Linked DNA regions of Homo sapiens: all the other regions are linked to region 2. The links come from fine-mapping of genetic effects on gene expression. A gene starts in region 2. Each other region holds a variant in brackets. All regions are shown on one strand. Distances are between the middles of the regions. Region 1 overlaps EPHA4 (EPH receptor A4). Region 2 holds the start of EPHA4 (EPH receptor A4). Region 3 overlaps EPHA4 (EPH receptor A4). Region 4 has its middle 340 kb from the start of EPHA4.

The links. PIP is the estimated chance that this variant, and not a neighbour inherited with it, causes the effect. A credible set is the group of variants that fine-mapping cannot tell apart.
Region 1: its variant is the best candidate, but not a certain one, in a credible set for the expression of EPHA4 in fibroblasts (GTEx, PIP 0.83).
Region 3: its variant is the best candidate, but not a certain one, in a credible set for the expression of EPHA4 in whole blood (TOPMed, PIP 0.77).
Region 4: its variant is the best candidate, but not a certain one, in a credible set for the expression of EPHA4 in tibial artery (GTEx, PIP 0.60).

Annotation. Positions count from the first base shown.
Region 1 is chr2:221,499,628-221,504,627 of GRCh38, forward strand. It overlaps EPHA4 (EPH receptor A4), which reads right to left. Exons shown (of 18, transcript NM_004438.5): 4 at 1,390-1,545. Among named protein-coding and RNA genes, the nearest start is that of EPHA4, 70 kb to the right of the region's middle. The variant G/A (reference allele first, on the strand shown) is at 2,108.
Region 2 is chr2:221,569,694-221,577,347 of GRCh38, forward strand. It overlaps EPHA4 (EPH receptor A4), which reads right to left and starts at 2,611. Exons shown (of 18, transcript NM_004438.5): 1 at 2,465-2,611. The coding sequence starts at 2,555. RefSeq lists silencers at 2,567-2,986, 3,587-3,866, 3,917-4,076 and an enhancer at 6,780-7,292.
Region 3 is chr2:221,491,748-221,496,747 of GRCh38, forward strand. The region is part of intron 4 of EPHA4 (EPH receptor A4); the gene reads right to left. Among named protein-coding and RNA genes, the nearest start is that of EPHA4, 78 kb to the right of the region's middle. The variant T/C (reference allele first, on the strand shown) is at 2,575.
Region 4 is chr2:221,224,625-221,232,542 of GRCh38, forward strand. No RefSeq gene overlaps it. Among named protein-coding and RNA genes, the nearest start is that of EPHA4, 340 kb to the right of the region's middle. The variant A/G (reference allele first, on the strand shown) is at 3,766.

The DNA.
Region 1 (5,000 bases), 71 kb before region 2:
GCAGGGTTGTTAGCTCCAGATTGGCCAAAATACCATTTATAGTAGTTAGGAAACAAAATAATAATAGTCATAATGATAACTAAAACTAATATATATATATATATATATATATATATATATATATATATATTTTTTTTTTTTTTTTTTGAGACAGAGTTTTGCTATTGTCACCCAGGCTGGAATGTAATGGTGCGATCTCGCCTCTCTGCAACCTCTGCCTCCTGGGTTCAAGTGATTCTCCAGCCTCAGCCTCCCAAGCAGCTGGGATTATAGGCACCACCCACCATGCCAGCTAATTTTTGTATTTTTAGTAGAGACGGGGTTTCACCATGTTGACCAGGCTAGTCTCGAACTCCTGACCTCAGGTGATCCGTCCACCTCAGCCTCCCAAAGTGCTGGGATTACAGGCGTGAGCCACCGCTCCCGGCCAAAGCTAAAATATATGAAATGGCATCATCCTATGCGATGTACATAGCACATAAACAACATGAGGCTGTTTAATACCAACAACCATTAGGAGGCACTGTTATTAACTCCATTCTCCAGGTGAGGAAACAGACTGAAGAGACTCAACAGCCACCCAGCTACACAACAGGCTGGGAAACAAACTCAAAATCTGTGGAAGGTGTCTGACCTGAGCCATGAGGCTAGCCCTCCAAGCACAGATTCACCTAATGGAAATTCATGGGCCCAGTGCTCCCCATTCCGATCAAGGTCACAGCCATTGTAGGGTCTGTGAAGGCCCAAGTGTACATGAAAGGAATGGTAACACCTAGGAACACTGTCCATATAAAGTGTGAGAAAATATTTCTTCACTCCTGCTCTTCATACCAAGCTTCCCAGCCTCATCCATTCATTAACCCAGCATTTATTAAATGCAATCATTAAACAAGCATTTATTAGGATTGGGGCCTAAGTCTTATGAACACAAAACTATGAGTAGAGAAGGAAGAGGTGTAATGACAACCTAAGCAATGATCTCAGTGCACACTGAGCTGTCCTTTACAGACTGAAACCACATTCCCAAACCCTGCCGTCTACCTGTTTCTCCTGCCAGTTGTCAAGCTTCCCTGAGTCCTCAGTGCAATGGCAAAGCCACTAATAAATTCCAATCTCAGCTCTAATTACACTGTCAGACAACCTCTGAACACTCAATCTCTTCTCCACCAAGTAGTCTGTAGGCAGCTGTGCACACTGAAGGCAACCAGAAGCAGTGGGAAAGACCCTTTCTTTTTACAAGCATTTCCCCTGCTATGATTGAGAAAGGATGAATGTTTGATCTCAAGTGCCCCCTGAATGATTATCCCAGGAGAAGACCTGGCAGTGCCTTGCTAGGTGGTAATGAAAGCTGTTGGCATCACAGGAATGAGAGACAAGCATACAACTTACGGGTGCAGGGCATAGAGGCAGCATCGTTGTCAGCTCTGAAAAAGCCTCGGTCACAGGTGCACGAGGTGGCTCCTTCCCAGACAGAGTAGCTGTGGGGTGGGCACTTGGCACAGGTGGCATCCGTGGAGAGAGCCTTGTAATATCCAATTTTGCAAGCTGCAGGGAAGAAGAAAAAAACAAACAAATAGAAACCACTGCAAATAGACCAAAGCAAAAATGCAAAGCCACCTCCTTGTTTCAGAAGAAGGGAGACGTTCTTGCTAATCATTAGCGATCATGTGGCTTGAAATGCAGGTCATGCAACCAAAAGCATTCATTGAGTATAGTCGCTCTTTAAGGGCCATTAACATTCCTGGTCAGGTGTCAAGAAGTCCAAAGGAAGAAATTTTCTTAAACCTGGCAGAATCAAGGAAAAGCACAGCAAAGTTTACCGAACGCCTTTCTATGTGCCAGATACCCTTTATACACATTATGCTGCTTAATTCTTACAGCACCCCTTTTCGACAGGCATTATCTCTACCTTAGAAGTGAGGAATTTCAGCTTTGAGCAGTTAATTGAGGGCACAAGACCATACATCTGCTAAGTGTCAGCACCCAGCTTTGACCCCAAGTGTTCTGCCCTCAAAGCCTGTATGCTTAGTCACATGCTATGGAATTTCAGAGTGTAGCCTTTAGCCAACCAGTGGGAAGTGTATCCAAGTGCTGACAAAAAAACCGG[G/A]TGGTGATTATTTCCCAATTACAACTACAGAAAGAACCAAATCGAAAGATCAACAAAGGCAAGCAAGTAAAAAAGACGAGCTTGTAAGGCACGGGTCACAGTTTCAGGGTGAAATAACAAAAACTATCAACTGGAGATTTTGGAATATAGTATGCTAAGATTTGTTTTTTGATCAGCGAATATTTTGTGTCTATTTTCAAGTTCATAAAACCCTCCTGTTTTTCCCTCTTTCCATTTTTCCAGCACCCTTCCCCTGCAATGCACACACCTCCCGAGAGCCTGGTGTAGAGAACACGGGCCATATAGTTTTTTATACACCTGACATCCTTTCCATGACTTCATCTTCATAAACATCACACTGACACTGTCATCATACTGACACTAAGGACCACTTTTAGTAGTGTGGAAAAACTCACTAATTCTGGGAAAACTCATAATAAAAAATAATGACTACTTGCTCCCCACTCTTTTTCCTTCCCCCATGGCCTTTCATGATCGCCTCTCAAATCTGTCTCAACCCCAGATAAAAATTGACCAACACCATCAGCATTAAACCCACAGAGACAAGGCCATTAAGAGTAAAGTTATTTCATAACACCAGAGGTTCAAAGAAAATGTGCCAGTAACCCACAATCTTTCCAGCATGATTCACTCTCGTTTCTTTTCATTCATCATGTCCTTAGGACTTGTCTATACTATCAGAAACAGCAGTGGGGAGAAGGACCTATCAGCCATTTTCCATCAGCCTGGCAGCCAAAACGGAACAACCATGCAGCAACGCAGCAGATCTTACTGAAATGAGTACTAGAAAGAGATCCATGAAACTGCTTGATTCTCTCTGGAGATAGGGCCATCATCTCACTGTCACTACTCATCCATCAAGCATCTGTATGGCTTCCAGCTGAAGTCTGTTCCACCCACTCGCATATCCTGTTGGCATTTTCTTAATCATACTCTTGTAATGGCAAGCGGAAAGGGAATTTAGCAGGGGCTCAGGAAGGCACACAGTTACTTCACTCTTACTAACTGAAGTTGTTTATGGAATTTCCTTTAACAAGCCAAAACTTTATGACGTGTGGAGCACTGACAATAAAAGTGCTGGGAGATCAATCTCTCCCTTATTTGCTTTCGTCTTTCACTGGACCGGAGCATCTTAGAAAAACAAGTTGCTCCAATGACTGAGATTTATGTGTCTCAAGTTTATACACATTGCATAATTAGATAAGGTTCAACTTGCAAGGTGCTTTTTTGGTCATGCTTAAGATGGCCCTAGGGTTTTGATTAAAATCAGAAACCCTGACTTTAGCAGGAAGAAGGACTGGGGGTCAAGCCCAGCTTTCTCACATCAAACACAATGAGCCTCTGAACAGGAACACAAACCCACTGGGTCCCGCCTGTCACTCAGTCAGTCGCAGTCGACAAAAGCAACTTGTGGCAACTCAGGACTGCAAAGAAGGCACAAAATGCTTTCATTTTTTTCACATCTGAATGTTTGCAGAAAACTGCATATTACTGACTGATTCTCATGCACCCCTCAATTTCAACAAGCATCAAAAACGAAAAACTCACAGTGGGAGTGGAAGATCGACAAGGACAAGAAACTGTCCAGTGACTGATCATCACAAAGTCCAAATGGCATATTTGAAAAGCTATTCTGATAAGACTACTTCCAGCTAAAAAATTAAACTCATCTTTTGCAAAAATCAAAATGGAAAATGTTGCCTTCAATTTCATTAAATTTCTTACAGTGCAAAAACCTGTTTTATATATTATGTGAATTTAAGAAAAAAGTGCATTTGCAAGTTTACATTTTTTCCTATTTTTCCTCGAAGCTGGTATTAATATGTCACCAGGAATAAATATATGTGAATTCATTTGGGAAATACCAATTTTATACCAGTTTGGAAAATTGAAGGCTGCTGTTCTTTAAACAGACACTCTTTTCCTTTTGCTTTTATAAAACACAGGCAGAAAATACAAAATTGTCATTGTGCTATTCTCGGCAGCCTTGCTACCCTTAACACCTTCTTTTGTCTCCAACTACATTAAGACCATGTTATTAATATTTCAGGATTCTTAGAAAGGCTCTCTCAAAATATAGTAGTGGCTTTTCACGCACATAGCCATTTTGCTGCCTACATTTAAAATGACCTAGTAAATTGATGGTTTAGTACATTTCTTTGCTCTATGTGGTGCACAGCCTTCCAGCATTTGGTACATAAATGTGTAAGTACATTCTGCATTTATTCACTACTTACTAGCATCTGAAAACTTTCACTATCTCTTTTATTCTAAACAAAACCCCTGTGAAAGATGTACTTGGCATAACAAGCATTGACTGTTAGTATTTTTTATCCTTCTATTTTAGGTGAGAACTGCTATGCTGTATTTTTGAATACTAATGACTTTGTGAGCAAGAAACTACTTCCTCCTGCCCTATTTCCACCGAAGTTTCACTAGTTAATGAACCATCTGAATGGGTGTCTTACTTGATCTTCTAGATATGCCATGGAGAAAAGATTAGTTCACACGTATGATGCAAACTTTGCATTCAATTCCTTTAGCTTTGCTTTAATTATCTCTTTCTGCTGGCTTTGAATAAAAAAAGATGGAGGAGGAGAAGGAGGAGGAGGAAAAAGAAGAACCAACTCTTCTTTCATTGGCTCACCCACTACCATAACAAAGTCGAATTTTAAGATAGTCTTGGTAACGTAGTATCTTCTGGATTTTTGATGCATTGATGTGTGTACGTGACAGTATAATGCCCAATTTAATGAGCTGATTACACCTACTATTTGAAAATTTTATATATATATATATATATATATATGGCTATGTCATTTTTCTGCTTTTTAAGAAATGTAGAATAATTGATAGTATCTGATTGTCTTTA
Region 2 (7,654 bases):
CAAAGGAACCACTGGGTTATTAATTTGATCAGCCAGGCTGGCTCTTCAGGCTGGGGGAGGGGTGGGAATGGGAAGCCGCCATCCGTGCTCATGCGCACCCCAACACTCAAGCTTACCCCCAGACCCCTGGATTCTGCCCACTTTCCCTCTCATTTCACCTCAAAGTCAATGGAGTTAAAAATCAGTCTCTTTCCCCTACTTTTCCCGGGGAGTCTGAATTCCTGGGGTCTGTTAATGATTTTAAAATGTAGAGCCTTCCCTGGGTCGCTCCCGCCTGGAGTTCCCGCCCCCTTCCCTCCTCTCCTCTCCCCACCGCCAACCCCCACCGCAACCATTCTCTTCTCTCTGTCCCTAGAGAAAAGCCCGCTACATCCATTTGGATTTATGTAAGGTGGATTAGGGACACAAAGGAAACAATAAGACCCAATTTACAAAAAAAGGAGGGAGTAGAAAGGGAGGGTAAAAGAGAGAAAAGGAAACGTGATGGGAATAGAAAGCAACAAAGTGAATTAATTTTTAAGGGGGAGGTGGGGGAGGGGAGGGGAACAGACCTCCCTCCCTCCCCTTCAACATTAGCCTAGGGCTCTCAGAGCCTTTTTGTCTTGGGCTCCCAAGTTTTTCTCCCCCCCCCCCAAAAAAAGAGGGGGTTTAAAAAAAAGAAAGAAAACAGTCTCTACATCTGGGGCGAGAGAGGTCTCAGGGGACGTCCTAACAAGTGTGTGAAGTGGCCAGGAGAACGCGGGATCCACGATTCCTCTCAGGGGAATGAATAACCCTAGGGACCGAGGGGCGGCGACGGCCGAGATGGCACCAGAACCACCAGAAGCCACGTCGGAAGGAGATGGGAGATCCAGAGGGCGAGAGAGGGCCCCTTTCCTCCCAAGCGATGTCTGTGGGCAGGTGTATAAATCTCTCAGAGCCTCCGTCTGGAGGGCTCCGGGTACCGGCTGCCCAGCCAAGGCTAAGTTGGTTTTTGGCTCCCTCCTTCGGAACAGAGAAAACGATAGATTACACAGGGATGGATGGACGGATGTCTGGAGAGATGGAAAGATGAATGGATGGATGGATGGGTGGATGGATGGATAGATGAATGGGTGGATGGATGGAGGGATGGATGGACGGACGGACGGACAGATATATGGATGGATGCATTATGGATGGATGCATGGACGGACGGACGGATGCACGGAGAGATGGATGGATGCATGGATGGATAGATAGACGGATGGACGGACGGATAGATAGATGGATGCCGGAAAGGAGAAGAATGAGAGACGGATGTGAGACTAGATGCACGCAGGCCAGAGCACCAGCATACGCTGGAACAGAGCACGAGCATACACTCGAACACACGCGCACACACTCAGGACATCTGCGCACAGACATACAATCCTCCGCGTCCGCTTCCACGCAGGCATTCGCGCACCTACATACACGCAGTTGCACGCGCGCGCACACACACAGGCACACACACGCAGACATGCACACACACGCAGACATGCACACACACCACACATGCAGACATGCACACACACGCAGACATGCACACACACACCACACATACACACACACACACACACAGTTCGCCTCTCCCTGGGTTTCTCAGAAACTAAATGATCACCGCCCCCCCGCCCCGCCCCACCTCCCGACACAGACACACAGGCACATACAATCCTCCCAGCACGTCCGAACGGATGCACAGAAAACTGAGCACCCAGACGGGTCCCGTCGACCCCGCACGTTAGCTCTAAACTGTGTGCAATTCTGGGGCGAAAAGCTAAAACTCGACTGCGTTCAACTTGCCGGCGGGTTCCCCAAGTCTGCGGGGCGAAGAGCTCGGGCCCCTCAGGCCCGCAATCGCACCCTCGGGGCGCTGGGCTTGGCGAGGAGAAAGGTGTCTGACTCCGGGTGCTAGAAATCAGGTCACTGGCGCCTGACGAGCGGCGCCACGACCGCTGCGCTGCGGAGCAGGCCCCGCAGCCCGGTCCCGAGAAGCGCAGGGCTCGGGAAACTTTGCAGAAACCAGAGCTCGAAAGGCTTTCGCTAGAATCCGGGAGCACCAAGCCTTCACTGTGCTCCAGGCTGCGTTTTCCCCTCGCCCCGGGCTGGCTCAGGAGAGGACGTGGTTCTTGTAATTTTTTTTTTAAATCCCGGCGTTGTCTCCCGTGCATCCCCTCAGGGCGCCTCGAGCGGGCCTCTCTGGCGGATGCTGATAAACTTTGGCCTTTGGTTACAAACTTGGACAGACCCGCCGCGTGCACGGGTCACCGCCTCGGGGCAGGCTGTCCGGCGGTTCCCCGCTGCCCCTTCGCCGATCCCCTCGCCTCAGCCCCCTTCTCCCGAATCGGGACGCACCATTCACACTGGGCTCCCCCCGCACCACCTGGCCCTGCGCTCCTGAGGACCCCTCACCCGCGATGGCCCCTCGCTGTCCCCGACCACAGAAAGGCCGTCCCGCTCTTACCTTCATTCGCGGGGTATACCCTGGAACCTGTGACAGCGTCGCAAATCCCGAAGAGACACGAAAATAGGGCGAAATAGAAAATCCCAGCCATGGTTCGCCGGTGCCAACGCTGCTCCTGCCGCTTCTATCCCAGTGGAATAAATGCTTAAGTTAGGAGAGCAGCGGGCTGAAGACATTGCCAAGGGGGCGGGCCCGGCCGGTGACGTGAGCCCGCCAGTCCGGGGCCCGCGGCCAATGGCGGCGCAGACAGGGCGGCCGAGCCCCGCCTTCACCGAGCAGGGCCCGCCCCAGGGTTCCGCCCCCTCCGGGCTCCACGGGGCGCGCGGTCTCCCGGGGCTCTAGGGGGCGAGCACGGCCGGTCCCCGCCCCCGCCTGCCGGAGGGAGCCAGCGGGATCCCCCACGTTACCTCGAAGGTCGAGCCCCTGGACGGCGGAGGGACTTTGGAAAAGCTCGGAATTGACCGAGGGGAGCCAGAGAAGAGGTTGGAAACCTTTTCTCCCACCACGGGCGGTTTAAGATGGAGGAAAACGCTCTTTTATTGAAATAAAAGAAGTCTAAGCTGACCTGCGGTTGCTTCTTTAGGAGAGTCGACGTGTCTGCGTCCAGCGCGCCCGGGCTGAGCTGCAGACTCGCGCCTGCCACCGCCACCCTCTGCCACCTTGCCCTGTTTTGTCTTTATGGCGCTTCCCCCTCTGAAATACTCTTTGCGGGGAGTTTTGTGGCTCTATCACTCGCTTCTTCCCTGGCTCCCCAGATGCCTGGAGAGCGGGGACCTACTTGGTCCCCAACGTCCAGTCCGCAGCAGGGCTCCGTCACTGTCTCCAGAGACTGAACGAATGACTTTCTAGCAGTAAGGAAGTCCCCGCTGGCCCCGTCCCCCTGCACACGCCGTGGACCTCGCCCAGGGCCCAGGACGCCCCGAGATGGCCTTGGGCAGGGAACCAGTTGTGGATTTCCCGGGGGCAGGGTTGGGGGCAGTCCCTGGAACCGGGCCTAGCCCGTCTGGGAGCGGTGGGGTAGAAGTGAAAGGCTTAAGTGTGGGTGCGGGGACTTGCAGCCGCACAGACAAGGCAGACCGGGACTGGGAAGCTGCCCGGAGCGGCTGCTGCGACTCTCCGCTCCGACCTAGCCGGGGCAGCCCTCCCTGCCCCGGGAGAAGACGGCGAGCAGGAGGACCCGCAGAGCCCCGCCCGGCTGCTCCGGCCCCGGGGGCACTGGCACCATCGGGCTGTGGTCTTTTCCCGATGCCCGAGCCGTGGACGCGGCCACCTAAGAGCGGTCCGGCGAAGGCAGCGCAGCCGGTGTCCCAGGGACCGGTCCCCAACGCCACTCGGTGCATTTCCCCAGGCGCTGGCAGGGGCACTGATTCCTAGCAATGAGGCCTCCCTTCCCCTTCCCAGGCCGCCCCTCCTCTGACTCCCTCCAGAGCAGGGCCGAGTTTTCCTGGGGAGCCTGGGTCCCGGCGGCCGGGCGGCCGCTGGGAGGTGGAGGAGCCTCTCCAGCCCCGGCCGCAGCTCATCGTGAGCCAACCGCGCCACCTGCCGGCCAGATGCGGGAGTGTGCGGCCCCGGAGGAAGGGCGAGCGGACAAAGACCGCAACCCGCAATCCGCAACCCCGCAGAGAGGTGGTGCGTGCGTTTGGGCGAGCTTTTCAGCCACCGCCAAGTCTCGTGCACTAGGGCTACTCCTACCGTGGGGCTGCGGACAGCGCTCAAGAGGTCCTGGAGTCTGTCGTGACTCTCGCCTGCTGGATTTCAAAAGATGGAATCGGAAAGCGTTTCAAGGAGAAACTCCTAACAAACCTTCCGGGGGTTGCCTGAGTGGCTGCTCTCGGAAAAGCGGATCCTAAATAAAGCGGGAGGGTTATAGGGCGACGTCGAGGAGAGGACAGGTCTCGAGTCACTGCTACAGTTTCAGGTCACTGGGCTCCGCAGCAGATCGTGTTTTCTCCCGTGGCTCGAGAGCTGCGCTGGTTTCTCATGCAAACTCAGAGCCGAGCTAATGACATGAGCAACTTTTACTTTTACACAAGATGAGCACGCGTGCCGAGGCGCTGGGCGGCGGCTGTGTGAGTTGGTGGCCCAGACGAACAGCTTGTGCGAGACTCTGGGCATTTCGGTTTCTAGATACAAGATTTGCTTAAATGTCACAGTCCAAAGAAGTGGATTTCAGTCATTGTAGCTACTGATTGCACACAAGTAAAAAGGGAAAAAATATGTACTCGGGGGATATATGTATGTGTGTGTGCGTGCATAAATTATTTAAAATAACTGCACTAAATCCCTTTAAGAAATGCATTTCTGGGTTCTTTCATGTGTCTTTCTGAGTTTTACAGAAAAAGAAGACGAATATTGGTCCCTGTCATTTGGCACACAGATTCAAAAGAGAAAAGAGCAATCCGAATTCTTTTTGAAACCTTTTTAAACAATAGATGCTGGCTGCCTCTCTGCAGGATCTTGAGTGTTGCATGTATCTATCTGTGTTTGAAACGGGAAACTGACTGCCTGCATTGTTATAAACAGTAAAATTTCTAAAACATGTACCATTTTTTTCCCCAGGATATGCACATTGAATATTAAACAAAGTCTTTCCAGACACAGCTGCCTGAAAGCAAGGCATCATTTGCTAGAGTACATTCACTGACTTTCCCTTTTTTCTTCCTATGTTTTAGTTCAGGACCCAAGGCAGCCCGATAATCAGGAGAACCAAGAAGCAGGAAATGCTAACTTGGAAAAACTGAACTATAACTTCCTCTTTAAATCATTTCTGGGTTGCAGAACAGAAATGAGCTGCTGAAAATTCCTCTGTCCATTGTGACTACCTAGAACAAAGGTGTTCTAACCTAGCAGATATGATTCCTTGAAGAGTAAGGCAAAATTTTAAAAATGATGGTGGACAAAGGCCACCATCAATGCAGAAAACCACCCACATTATGGGAAGACAACCTGGAGTTTTCAAATGTTGGAGACTGTTTACAACACATCAACGGAGTCATAAGGATACAATGGAATATCATACCTTTAAAAAAGTACCTAAAATCACCTAATTTTAAAATAAAATTGCTTTACTCTTGAGTAAGACAAGTCTTACTACAGTAAAAATTTGGGGTTATTTTGAATACACTAAGAAACATGTCAAAACATATCTGCTTACACACTTAATGAAAATAGTAATTGAATAATCTGAAAACAATGATATACTTTTTTTTATACAGTGCCTACCACAAACGTTTGAGCTACGAAGTACCTTGTAAATGCTGAATTGAATTAAGATTGAATTCCAAAGGTGTTTTTAATCCGTAAAAGACGTTTGTAAATAGCACCAAGCATCCCGGGGTTTCCACCTGTATGTGGAGGGCCAATTTCACCAAAGTAAAGAGAAAGGAGCCTTTGACCCGTAGACAAATAATGATAAGGAGGGTGTATGAAAGACTGGAGAGACAGAGAGAATAAGAAGATGAATCCACTCTGCTTTTTCTAGGCATCCTGGTGGATTTTTTGTGAAAAAAATGGAACCTGCCCATAGTGCTCCAATGACTCCCTGAGTTCTCTTTTAGAGAACCAGAACTTTCAATTCAGACAACCCCAATTTGATACTTTAGCTGGGCTTTTTCTAGCTGTGTGTCTTTAAGTTCCTTGACCTCTCTGAGATATGGTTTTCTCATCTACAAATTGTAGATAGTTAACATTATATGGTTCTTCTAAATACTGAATGAATGTTATAGAGCTTCTGGTATAGTACCTGGCGTGTGTTAGCCAGCTGTTATTACTCATTTTTATTTTTATTTTTATTTTATGAGACAGGGTCTCACTCAGGTCACCCAGGCTGGATTGCAGTGGTGTGATCATGGCTCACCACAGCCTCACCCTCCCCAGGCTCACGTGATACTCTCACCTCAGCCTCCTGGATACCTAGAACTACAGATGTGTGCCACCACACCTGGCTAATTTTTTGTATTTTTAGTAAAGATGGGGTTTCACCATGTTGCCCAGGCTGGTCTCAAAATCCTGGGCTCAAGCAATCCTCCTGCCTCATCCTCCTAAAATGCTGGGATTATAGTCATGAGCCACCATGCCTGGCTATTGTTTCTGTAAAATAATATTTAATTAATAAGCATTCACATTTTGAAATGAGAAATCATTTGTTCAGCTTGAATTGTTCCTTCCAGAAGGAAACCAAGCACTGTGATTTACCTTTCGTGCTCCATGAGAAAATAAGATGCTTTATTTTATTAACTCCTAGAGTAGGGAAGGGAAATAAATTCTAAATTCTTCTCTTCTTTTATTGTTGATTTATGACAGCTGACATCCAACTTTTATATTCCTAGGTAATTCCACTGGATTTGGACCTAGAGGCTATGCTTGTCTTCAAATAGAATAGTGTAAAAAATACGTGAAAGAAGGTGTGAGGAATCCAGAGTCCCACAACCAAGTGGTAATGAATAACCAAAGCTCTACCTAATGAAATTCCCACCGTTGTTAGAAAACGCTTCTACCACAAGCTACTGCATCTTAAATATACAAATTTGACACAACAATTGGTGGGCTTCCGGAAGCCCCCAGGAAACCTAACTGCAGAGTTCATCCTTTGATGTCAAGGCTTTGATGCTGTTTGTTATGCAAATAAGAAGCAGGACACTTATGAGCCCTTTACACCTGAGTGGGAAAAAAAATGGCTGCAGAGCTCAGGTCTTCATGCATCAAGAGGATGAGAGAGCAAGACAAAGCAAGAGGCCTTTTTTTGTTTGTTTGTTTCATTTTTTTAATAAGTTGTTGGGGTATAGGTGGTATTTAGCTACATGAGTAAGTTCTTCAGTGGAGATTTGTGAGATCGTGGTGCCCCCATCACCCGAGCAGTATACATTGCACCGTATTTGTTGTCTTTTATCCTTTGCCCCCTCCCATCTTCCCCCCAAGTCCCCAAAGTCCACTGTATTATTCTTATGCCTTTGCATCCTCATAGCTTAGTTCCCACATATCAGTGAGAACTTAGGATGTTTGGTGTTCCATTCCTGAGTTACTTCACTTAGAATAATAATCTCTTTTGCATCACTGAGGTGAGGAGGGGCAGACAGGAAGGTTGCAGTTCTCAAGGGAGCAAGGCTTTTCTAAAACTTCATTTGATGCCGTCCGTGAATTTTACTCGGTTCTAACAAACATTTCTTCAGTGTCTACAATGTACCAAATCCC
Region 3 (5,000 bases), 79 kb before region 2:
GAGTTTCTATTAAAGGTTCTTTTTCTAGGTGGAAGATCATAGGAATAGGGCGAGGGGCAATTATATCTCTATAGCAGAATCTCTCATAAATCTAAATGTTGATAGCAAAGAAGATACCCTGGGCTGAGTGTGGTGGCTCGTTTCTGTAATCCTAGCACCCTGGGAGGCTGAGGTGGGAGAACTGCTTGAGCTGGGAGGTGGAAGTTGCAGTGAGCTGAGATTGCACCACTGGGAGACAGAGTGAGACTCTGTCTTAAAAAAAGAAAAAAAGAAGATACCCCGTTCTCACCCCAGGGGATCTCAGAAAAATGTGTAATTAACCTTGTTTCATAGAAGCATGCTGTGAATAACCACTGTATGACTTCCATGCATAGTGTCAAAAATGGCATCCAGAAATGACAGGACTCGGTCAATGACAAGCCACTCTTAATTATTCAGGGTGGTAGAAAAATTGTAATAACCTGGCTAAATGGCATTGGCAGATTATTCAAGCCTTCCACTTGGGCATATATTAGTGTCCCTCGAATCTTTGCATTTTCCAGTGGAATCCATAATGGGCTGTTTATGACTATAAAATGGGGAGTATGTGGGGAAAAAAAAGAGGAAGCTAAAACAGCATTTTTTTAAAAAGAATTCAGTGAGATGATACCTGATCTTTATGAAATATCATGAGGCTCTTAAAATTTTGCAAACAACCAAATGGCAAATGATCAGTCTGGGGTCTATCTAGTGCCTTCGTTGAAGCTCACCTGGTGATCTTTCTCCCTTTATCTTTAATTTTCTTCAAACAAAAACCATCCACTTGGTTGTCTAGAGGTACTTTTTCCTTTTAGTAGCTAAAATGCTGAAAGGCAATCCGAAAGGAAGAAACAAAAATGTGGTATACTCACTAGCTAACATCAGATGTTGAACTACTAAGCTCTAACTGAAGCAGCAGCATACGTTGACGGCTGCATCTGAATCGTCCAAATGTCTTTGGTTGCTTTGATCAGTTTGTACAGTCCATGGGACAGACACATTAGCTGGCTTACCAACTAACAGGCAGCAGGACCATATGTTCTGAACTAAAAACCAACTATGTAATCTGGCAGTGGAGGAGTTGGTGTCTCAATCTGAGTTTTTGTCCTATGACAAATGGAATGCAGTATGAAACTATACTATTACATTGCAAATTTGATAAATGACATGGAATGAGAAATTCCCCTGGAAAACTTGGATTTGAGATTTTTCATAAAAATATGTTCACGAAAATGATTGATTGCATGAATGATAAAATGGCTAGAGATCAACCAATGAATCTTCTGAAACACTTTCATTTACGACACTTTGGGAATCTTTGGCCTTTGTTCTCACTTTTCTAACTAGTCTTTCACTAGAGCTAACTGCACCCTCACTGACCTATTTCACAGAATGTATGCCTCCCCCATCATTATATGATTAGTTACTTGCAGCTCTAAAGCAAAAAGAAATATGCTTTCGGGTAGATAAAAAAATATATAGTTTACTTGAAACTGAAGGCTGCATTTTATCCTATGGTTTATACATCAAAGCCTCGCTCTAGACATCCCTCCCCAAATCCCTTAGCCAGACTGCTAAGCATGTAAATCTTTGGGGTAGAGAATTGAACAGAATAACAGGGGCACCTTCAAGAGCTTGTTTGAAAATGGATGTGAGATTCCCAAAATTAAAGCCCTTAAAAAAATAAAAAATAAAAAAATAAAAAAGGAAAAGAGTCCCTCCCTTCTCCTGACCTTGGAAACAAGTAAGGACGATGTTATTTTAATTTGCATTCAAATTTTCACAACACAGTCACACAGCACCGGTCGAATCGACATTGGGTTTCCACCGAAGATTGCTCATCATTTCATTATGGCTCATTATGTTGATAACTGTCAGAAAGCATTAGCAGCGAGGGCTTTGAGTAATAGAACTGAAATGGTAATTTTAAAACAATACACTTTCTGGGAGGAAATACAGCAGCGCACTAAATTCAATTAGAAAAGGCAAATGTAGAGACAAAGTAAGTGATGTTTGTTGTTTGGAACTTGGCTGTTTCAATTTCTTGATAACGTAAACCTGGAGAAAGTTTTTTCAAATCAGGACCTCTGGTCATAGATCTTAGGAAATCTGCCCTCATTAGCTCTGAGCTCTCCTAGTATAAAATGTCTTGAAAGCTGCAATTTTGGAATATTTTCGGCCACGTCTAAGTATCAATCAATCACTCTTTGTTTGTTTGGCACATTCGAGGCTGTTTACTTGGAGACAGATTCGTAAAGGCCCTTCAAGTTGGCAATCTAAAATAATAATCTCTCATTTACAGAGTGTTCCCAATCACCAGGCTCTAAGAAGTTTCATCAAACAAGTTAAATAAAGAGCACCCAAAAGCACAGGGACAGATTTCCAATTGAAAAATACGAAAAACTACTCTGGTAACAGTGCTCAGAAGTCAAGGTGGCAAAATGACAGATGAGCTACATTTTTCTAGATATGCAAAGCCAATTTACTACCTTTACAAGGTACTTTTCTAGCACATTTTGAAATACAATAAGGGGTTGGAAAAGAAAGTTACCTTAA[T/C]GCCGGGTGCAGTGACTCACGCCTGTAATCCCAGCACTCTGGGAGGCCTAGGCGGGCGGATCGCTTGAGGTCAGGAGTTCGAGACCAGCCTGGTCAACATAGCGAAACCCAGGCTCTACTAAAAATACAAAAATATTAGCTGGGCATGGTGGTGCATGTCTGTAAATCCCAGCTACTTGGGAGGCTGAGGCAGGAGAATTGTTTTAACTCGGGAGGTGGCAGTTACAGTGAGCTGAGATAGCGCCACTGTACTCCAGCCTGGGCAACACAGTGAGACTCTATCTCAAAAAAGGGAAAACAAAAAAAGAAAGTTACTTTAAATATAACATTGATTTAGCTTCCCAGTGGGGGAAAAGAAGATCTTGCTCACTACAATCATTGAACAAGCAAGTACATGACTAAGACCATCAGAAGTCTTCCTGCAGGGGTGTGAGGTTGACCACGCCCAGTCCTGCTGATAACCAGACTGCATTCCAGAAGGGGCAGGGAAACAAGGAGAAACAGATCTGGAGAAGGGAAAGAGCTAGTCATTCGTAGAGTTAAAGGACTTTAATTTCATTAATAAAAATCACATCAAAATCCCTGTTAAGAAAAGATTCATAAAATCAAAATCCTGACATCAGCTTTAATGGCAGCCCTGAATGTGCAGAAATAATGGTGCTTGTCCTGGCAATGTTGCCAAAAAAAAAAAAAAAAAAAAAAACTTCTTGCCTCTCTTGACTGATACAGGTGTCTAAGGTGAACATTTACATTTCTACTCTCTGGCAATAACTTGGTGAGGATTCTGGAAGAAACAAACAAACAACAGCAAAATTAAAAAGAAAAATAATTCCACAGTGAGTGCATTTGGTTGTATGATTCTACCCAGGCTGGATTTTCTTCATACAGGAGACAGATGAAGTATTCCATTTCCATGAAGGGAGAATGATCAGAATCCATGAAATACCTTTCTAGAGTCACCACTGAGCTGAAGAACAGGTCTGAAAGTTACAGGCATCAAAACAGAATCTCCTGTCTCCTGACAGCCGTGGGGCTGGGAATCTAAATCCTTGCTGCCTAAAGACGGTTTTACAGATCAGTAGCTTCAGCCTCACCTGGGAACTTGTCAGAAACAGACTCTCAGGCCTAACCTCGCTCCTCCTAATCCGCAGGTGATTTCCATGTGATTTTTGTGCATGTGGATGTTTAAAAAGCTCTGTTCTAAACTCCCTGTTCTAAATAGTTATGGGCTATTTTCCAGAAAATGTTCCGATGGTGCTTCCATAGAAACATCTCAGCACATCTCACAGGCAGCCATTTATGTTAACCTAACCAGAGGCTCCAGCAAAAGTATTCCCAAAGGTAAAGTTTGTTTACGATTAAATTCTCTTAAGCTCTCCAGCAGCGTCAATGGTGCAAACTTCCTAGGCAGTTTCCTTCTAAATTAGCCAATGCTACTTTTATTCACCTGGTCTAATTGTTCTCCAAGTGAACAAAAACCTGATTTTACAAGCCAGTGGAGCACAGTCTCTCTTTGGCTAGAAGAATGAGGCTCAGATAGTGTGTTTTATTTCTTCATTAGTGTGCCGTCACAGTGAGCGATCACTAAATGCGAGGCTGCATAAGAATGCTGGGGTTAAAGACAGCATAATGAACAAAGAAGGTGCCTGATTATCATGGCTGTCAGCACAAGGGAATTGGGTTTGTCACCTGGCTTAACCAACTGGGAAGAACTGATTAGAGGCTGGAATCAGTTTGAAAGGACCCCTGATGTTTATGCTGCTTCCCATCCCCACATCTTGTCAAGAGAATCCGATAAAGCTGGGGGCAGCGTGCGAGTGGGGAGAGTTACTCTGTGGATCATCTGAACAAGAGGTTCTTTGAGAAACTCCTACTGTCTTCTCTGTTGGAACGTCTACTACAGTATTGTCCAATAGAACTTTCTGTGGTGATAGAAACGTTCTCTGGGTCTGCCGTCCGGTATAGTCTCCACTAGCCATATATGGCTATTGAGCACTCAAAATGTGCCAAGTTTAAATAAGAACCTAAATTTCAATTTAATGACTTTAAGGTTAAATAGCCACGTGTCAAGTGTCTACAGTACTAGACAATACAGGTCCATTATATTCACTAGGAAGGGAGATGTCGAAAGGAAGAGCCATAGGCTAAGAATTAGAATCCAGTTCTGCTGCCTGACTTACGACTATATCTATTATCAGCAAAGTATAGTCACTTCCCTGATTATCCCTATCTCAGAGGAAGTCTTCAGAGGCTTATGCAGTTAATGTTTAAGTTTAAAAAAATACTTACAAGTTTAGTTCTGTTGGCCGGGTGTGGTGGCTCATGCCTGTAATCCCAGCACTTTGGGAGGCCGAGGTGGGTGGATCACCTGAGGTCCGGAATTCAAGACCAGCCTGGCCAACATGGTGAAACCCTATCTCTACTAA
Region 4 (7,918 bases), 340 kb before region 2:
CAAGAGGAGAGAGCTCTTCCAGAAATTCCTGAGATAACTCAAATTGAGAGAAATACATACCAAGAGCAGGCCAAACACATTCAACAATTATCAAAGGAAGAAATTAAAGAACTTACCCTTCCTCTGCCTACACTATGTACCATGAAACAGTAGTATTTTCTCTCTACTTAGACATTAAGGTAATACTATCTTTAAAAAAAAATAGTGGACAGTATATTTGGAGAGGGTACCTAAAACGGGTGTTGATTCTAGACAGCATAGCCCAGCCTGAAGATAGAAGGGCGGTAGCCAATTCAGCATACTCTGAGCACTAATCCCTGAAATGGGGTCCAGATATAAGAACCCCACTGAGCAGGCCTTAAGAATGTGGCCCAGGTAATTTACTAGCGGAAATAGAAGTCCCTATGTGCAGAACAGAATCTTGTCCTGCACTCTGCTTCTCTTCTTCTGTAACAACTTAAGCAAAGGCATGGTATTGAAAATAAAATCTACATCCACTAACAGTGATCCAGATGAATCAAAGACAAGATAAAATTATAACTCAACCTAACAAGAAATGAAGGAAATCAACTACATGAGAGATAGATACAAAATTTATTAAGGAGAAAATCCATCTTCTATGGGGGAAAACAATAATGGGAAAGAGAAATATCCAAGAAGCTATCACATTTATAAAAATGTTTAAAGCAATATTTAGTGCATTTATTTCATACTGCTGAGCACAAAATGACCACAAATTTAGAATGTTAAAACAACATATATTTGTTATCACATGTTCCCCATGAGTCAGGAGTCCAGGTACAGCTCAGCTGGACCCTTTGCTCAAGACTTCACAAGGTGCATTCAAGGTGTCTCCTAGGTTTAGATTTTTTTTTTTTTTTTTTTTTTTTTTTTTAGATAGAGTCTCGCATCATCACCCAGGGTGGAGTGCAGTGCCGCTATCTCGGCTCATCGCAACCTCCACCTCCCGGGTTCAAGAAATTCCCTTGCCTCAGCCTCCCGAGTAGCTGGGATTACAGGCACATACCACTGTGCCGGGCTAATTTTTGTATTTTTGGTAGAGATAAGGGATTTCACCATTGTGGCCAGGCTGGTCTTGAACTCCTGACCTCAAGTGATCTGCCTGCCTCGGCCTCCCAAAGTGCTGAGACTACAGGTGTGAGTCACCGCACCTGGCCTGCATCTTATCTGGAGCTCAGGATTCTCTTTTCAAACTCACATTATTGGTGGCAGAATTTATTTCATTGTACCCAAGGCAGATTTCCTCTTCAAGGACAGCTTGGAGAGAGTCTTTGCCCTCTTGATCCTGTTTTAAAGAGCTCACCTGATTAGGTCATGCCCACCCAGGAAAATCTTCTTTTGATTAACTTAAAGTTAATTGATTAGGGGACTTAATTACATCTGCAAAATTCCTTCATCTTTACTCTATAATGTAACAATCATGGAGTCATATCCCATCATCTTTGCAATATTCAGTTACAGGCAAGTTATGTTTCTACCCATACTCAAGGGAGCAGATTATACAACATGTAGGTCATTAGGGGTTATAGAATTTTGTCTGTCACAATAAGAAATATGGAACATGTAAAATATCAAAATAAAAAGTAAAAACTCAAAAGCTGAATTGTTTAATAGATATCTGGAGACTGAATTTAGATCATCATTGAAATATAAATTACATACATCAAGATACACAGATTATAAAGAATACATCTTAGCAATACATACCCCAACCAAAGTTTTCTAGTGCCTCTTCTTAGACAGTCCTAACCATTTCTCCAGCAAAACCTTTTCTGATTTCTATTACCATAAATTACTTTTGCCAGCTTTATAATAAAGGTTTGGAAAGTGAAAAATCTTGCCTTGTTCATAACCTTATTGAGAAAGGGTCCAATATTTTAACATCAAATACAATGCTATCTGTAGGTTTTCCATAGATGCCCTTTATCACGAATTCCTAGTTTGTTGGGGCTTTAAGTCATAAATCGGCAAATATTATTAAATGTTTTTTCTGCATCTGTTGAGATAAGATTTTTAAAAATCTTAATAAATTGCAGTAATTTTTTAATGTTTCACTTGATATTATTATCTATTCTTTTTTAAAAATTTTTTCAAGAGACAGCATCTTTTCTTGCTGTTGCCCATGCTGGAGTGCAGTGGCACAATCATTGCTCACTGCAGCCTTGTCTTACTGGTCTTAAGTGATCCTCCTTTCTTGGCCTCCTAAACTGCTGAGATTATTGGTGTGAGCCACTGTGTCCAGACTATTTTTTTAATATATTGATGGATTTAATTAGTATTCTAAGGGACATTAGGCTACAGATTTTCTTTAATTGTAATGTCTGTCTGGCTTTGGTATTAGAGTTTTGTTGGCCTAATAAGATGAAATAAGAACATTTTTCTCATCTATTTCCTGAAAAATAAGTTTATGTAGAATTTGTGGTTTTTCTTTCTTAAAGGTTTCAGTTCACCATTAAATAATAGGGATTTATTTATAGGGGGTAATTATAAATTCAACTTTCTGAACAGATATAGGGCTAGTATGATTTTCTATTTCTTTTCGTGTCAGTGTTCTTAATTTGTATTTTTCTAGGAATGTGTCCATTTCATCTAAATTGACAAATCACATGAAATTATTCATATTTCCTTGTTATTTTTTACTATCTAAAAGATTCATATTCACACATCCTCATCTATTTCTAGTAATTATCAGTCTAGCTAAGGGTTTATCAATTTTATTGATTTGTTCAAATATTCAAATATTAGTTTTGTTTAATTTGATTTGAACAAATTTGATTTGTTCAAATGTTCAAATATTAGTTTTTCTCTATTTCTCCATTTTTCTGTTTTATTGTTCTCTAGTATTACCTTTATTATTTCAATATTCTACATACTTTGGGTTAATTTGCTTTCATTTATTCTATATACTTTGGGTTAATTTGCTTTGGGATGAGGATTAATTGGCAAAGAGCAAGTTTATGAAAAGTTCTACATTTTGGTGGGCATGTGGATAAATGAATGCGTGAATTTGTCAAAACTCATCAAATTACATACTTAAGATTTTTGTATTCCACTGTATGTGAATTATCCCTTGATAGAACTGAAAACAAATATTAAACTCTCACTGGTAAGTTTAGGTTTTGCAGTTATTCACAATTCTAAAACTGCTTTCCATGTATTCTAGACCTGAGCAAATGAATATTTATATTAAAGATAATTTAAGCCAGGGTTTTTACCACTAGAGAAGAAAGTCACAAATGTGGAAAACAGCAAAACCCTGTAGAGTTAGTTTGGAACTGGAAGTACAATGTCTTTAACTGACTTCCAAATGTTTCCAAAAATAATATACTCTGTGTGTGTGTGTGTGTATGTGTGTGTCTAGAGAAAGAGAGAGAGAAGGAGCAATAGAGACATAATAAAGAAAAATATAAACAACTGGTAAAGAATATACAAGAGCTCCTTAACCTATTCTTGCTCTTTTTCCTGAAATAAATTTTGATATCATATAAAACTTTAAAAGTTACCAAAAGTAAGTTCTGCTATACAAGTGAATATTGACCTATTTAATCATTTAACAGGGAGGTGCACTCTTAGCTGGAGACAGGATGAGGAGACTGGCACTGATTCCTGCCTTAGGTAGGCATGGCAGTTTTCTGGGATGAAAAGGTAAAGAACAGAAGCACAGGGAACATTCTCTGGAAAGAAAACTGTTACGATATGTTTGTTCTTGAGGGACTCAAAATAGAAAATCCCTTTTCCTTTAAG[A/G]ACACTTGCTGGAGGGGGTTGGGGGAGAGATAAAATTAAACATTGGCACAATGGTGCTGGAAGCCACTTTAGGAATAACTTCTATAACCTTTTTAGTAATTTTCCATGCTCCGGACAAAAAATTTTCTGTAACGTTCAGTTCTAAAAACAAATTGTCCTTTTTCTAAGAACTATGCAACATGCTCATTTCCACCTTTTTCCTTTCCTAATTTTAGAACAAAGCAAGCTGTTATTAGGTTGTCTTTTTGTATTTATCATGTAAAAAACTGCTGAAGGCTTTCTTGAAAACTGAAATAAAAGAAATGTGGTATATTGTTTTCTTTTTCATTTTCCTTTTTCTTTTTTTGGTATGTGCATGTAAAGGTAAACATTTCAAATTGCCACAATATAATTTAATTCCTCTCAAAGTCTGACAACGCCTTAATAACAACACATTATTCAAGGGCCTGTTTAAGGTTCCTGCCTCCATTTAACTTTTCATCTAAGTATTTATCTATTGTACTTTATCCCAGATCCTATGATAATAAAAAATACACATCACTTTGCTTCTGATCTGTTAGGAACATGCTTCTTTCTATAAAGCCAGGAAAAGAGATTTTCTATTTTCACCTCCAGTCTGACACTCAAGACTCCAGACCCTATTCGGTACGACTGTCACTTCTGGTAAAGTACACTTGAACAAAGATTTAAAGCCAAATACTTTTTTAAATTATGTAGATTTCTGTTGGAGGAATAGACTTCTTATTCCTAAAAAATATATAGAAAGCATGAATATTAATTCAGAGATGAGTATGTTCTATTTCTAATAGGGCATGTTTTTGGTACTACCAGATGTTAGCATATTCTTAATTCAAATCATCAGGTTCAGTTACATCACCAGGAAGGGCTGCTGTATTCTTCCTGTATTTGAGCTATTAATAAAATATGTTCTTAATTTTAAAAATTGCTTGGCTTGGGTGTGGGGCATTACTGTGGGGAGTTGAAAATACAGGAAAGCAAAGCAACATATTTGGACCACTGAGGTTTTCTAAGAAACACACTAAAATAAATTTCATATAATGTTAGAGCCATTTTCCCTTTAAACTCTATGTTGTCTGTGATACAATACTGATTTAAATCTACTCATTAATCCTGATAGTGGCATTTTAATTAAAGGTATATAACAGGTTAATAAACCCAACATCATTTTAAATCCCTGAAAGAAAAAGAGAAGTGTGTGTGTGTTCATGTGTGTGTGCACGCATGCATGTGTGCATGTGTGCACAATATGAAAACTGTCAAATTCTTTTCTGCAATCCAAAGCCTCTCTATTCATGACTTGAAATGAAGGGAATGCACCCTATGGGAAGCATTCACCCAACCTGTGCACAAATGTTTTGGCTGTGAAGTAGTGGAGACATATGGAAATCATTTTCCTTACATAAAACATGGCTGAGATAAAACATGGCTGAGATAAGTCACACCTAAACAAAGGTTTCCAGGATCTTCAAGAGCCAGAGTAGTTCAGAGTAAAGGTATAGCCCTACTACTCTACTTCTTCAATGTCAGTGATCCAAAGAAAATGAGAAACTTATTTTTTCACTCTTAAAAATCAACTTATTATGAAAGATTATTATTTACTTAAGTTATTTTTAATTATGCATACTATTGCTATATGGTACCATTTTATTTTACTGATTTTAAATAGAGGTAAAGGTTATATTTCACATTAAGGATACTAGAAGCCAATTTTACCTAAGTTATAGCCGAGAAGAAATATATTTTTTAAATTACATGGAAAAAACCTCTAAGGCAGAGAGGGCAAATAGGTTTCATGCTGAAAGCCACTTTTAATCAATTGGTAGTGAATACATGAAACATGGATTGAAAAGGAATCTAAAGTGGTGACCAGCCTTCAAGGGAATGAGAACCATTATTGATTAATGATGTCTGCCTTGGGCACTAGACTGGAAAGTTGCAGCACTTCTCTTGTGTATTTACCAAACCTAAGCATGGTGAAATGTTGTCAGCTTTTAAGTACATATTCAAAAATTATGACTTAAAAGAAATAGTTACATGCTTATAGACTATTGGTGAGAATATTAATTAGGTCAGCTACTGTGGGAAGCAGTTTGGAGATTTCTCAAAGAACTCAGAACTACCTTTCAACACAGCAATCCCATTACTGGATATATATCCAAAAGAAAATAAATTGTTCTGCCAAAAAGACGCACGCACTTGTATGTTCATCACAACACTACTCACAATAGCAAAGACATGAAATCAACCTAGGTGCCCATCAAAGGCAGATTTGATAAATAAAATATGGTGTATGTACACATGGAATACTACACAGACATAAAAAAGAACAAAATCATGTCCTTTGTAGCAACATGTATGCAGCTGGAAGCCATTACTGAGTGAGTTAATGCAGAAACAGAAAACCAAATTTCTCATATTCTCACTTATAAATGGGAAGCTAAACATTGAGTACCCATGGGCATAAAGATAGCAACAACAGACACTGAGGACTATTAGAGGGGAGGAAGAGAAAGGAGCAAGGGTTGAAAAACTAACTCTTGGGTACTATGCTCACTATCTGGGTGACAGGATCATTCATATCCCAAACCTCAGCATCATGCAGTATACCCACGTAACAAAGCTGCATATGTACCCCTGGAATCTAAAATAAAAGTTGAAATTATGAAAAATAAAAAAAAGTTACAGATATTCTAATAAAGAAATATGAATTTATAAAAATAAAATAAAATAAGCATGAGATCAAAATGAGACAAGTACATAGGCGAAACCATACAACTGATGTGTGTGCTATGGAAGCATCACAGACTTAGCCCTTGATTTTTTATCTGCCAACTGAAGGGAAAATCTAGGGTACATAATTCATTGCATCCCTAAGATAAAAAAGAATCATTTTCCAGGTGGCTTACACACATTCTTGATATGAAGATTGTCCAAGGATTTTACTCTAATAAATCATAAAGATAAAAGAATGCCACATAGTCAAGAATACCCTTAACAAAAATGTAACAATGAACTTAATAGGCCTGTTTTGATCATGACTTTTCATATAACTTGATAGCATGCCACTAAAATAGAATTTAAGAACAGCAATTTTGCAAGAGACCAACCAAATGTGCTTTCTACTGATCTGGTTAAGTTATAATTTTAATATCTAAATCCAGAAATCTTTGAATATTGATTTAGTATGTAGGTAACTACTGAGTGGCTACAAGCTTAAGACTATTCACTAGCAAGTATTTGGAATGCATTACTTTCTGTTGCCAGGCATAGATAAATCTGCATGCGTTGACAGTCAACCTGATTAAAATAAGGGTGAATTTCAGTCTGGCTTTTGAAGCCCATGGCTGCAGCTAAGAGGCCAGCATTCTTCCTTCCCACTAGCAGGGCTACGACATTCAACTTCTACCTTCTCTGTAAAACACGAAGTGTATGACATGTCCCAGTTTTTCTTTTGTTTTATTTTCAATTCACTCCTACATCCAATGGAACTTTACTTTTCAAAACAACAGAATATAATAATTTGACATTACGGAAATGTATTATTAAGAAGTTTAGTTGCATCAGGAGAGTCACCCAATCAAGGAAGTTAACAAAAGCATTTGTGAATCCAGGTCGCTTCTCTCTCTAGCCTAGAGCTTTTGAGTTTGGGTTTATGAATCCTCATAGGCCAATTAGCTTAGCTGGTTAGAGCCTGGTGCTAATGATGCTAAGGTCAGAGAGTTGGTCCTCTGGGAGTCAGTGCACTTTGAGTAGAAAAAAATAGCACAAAATCATTTCCACAGCCATACCTTGGACCTTTAACCAAAGTCATCCATCTCTCAAAGCCTCATTCTTAATCCCAACTGAGACTAGATAGGAGCGCGTGGCTGGCTCAAGGCCACTTTTCACTAATATCTGATTTTCTGATGGTGGGCTACTTCTAAAAAGAAGAAATTTTATGACTTCTGCCTTTTAGTCAAATTAGATATGCTGTTTCCATGCCAAATATACATTGATTTTTCCAAGTTAATTTCTACTCAATTCAACAGAGATAATGAAATCCAGATGTAAGAAGGCAAATACTAACATTTATTGAACATCTATTCTGTCAGGCACTTTTGGATACCTTATATACATGAAATTATTTAATACT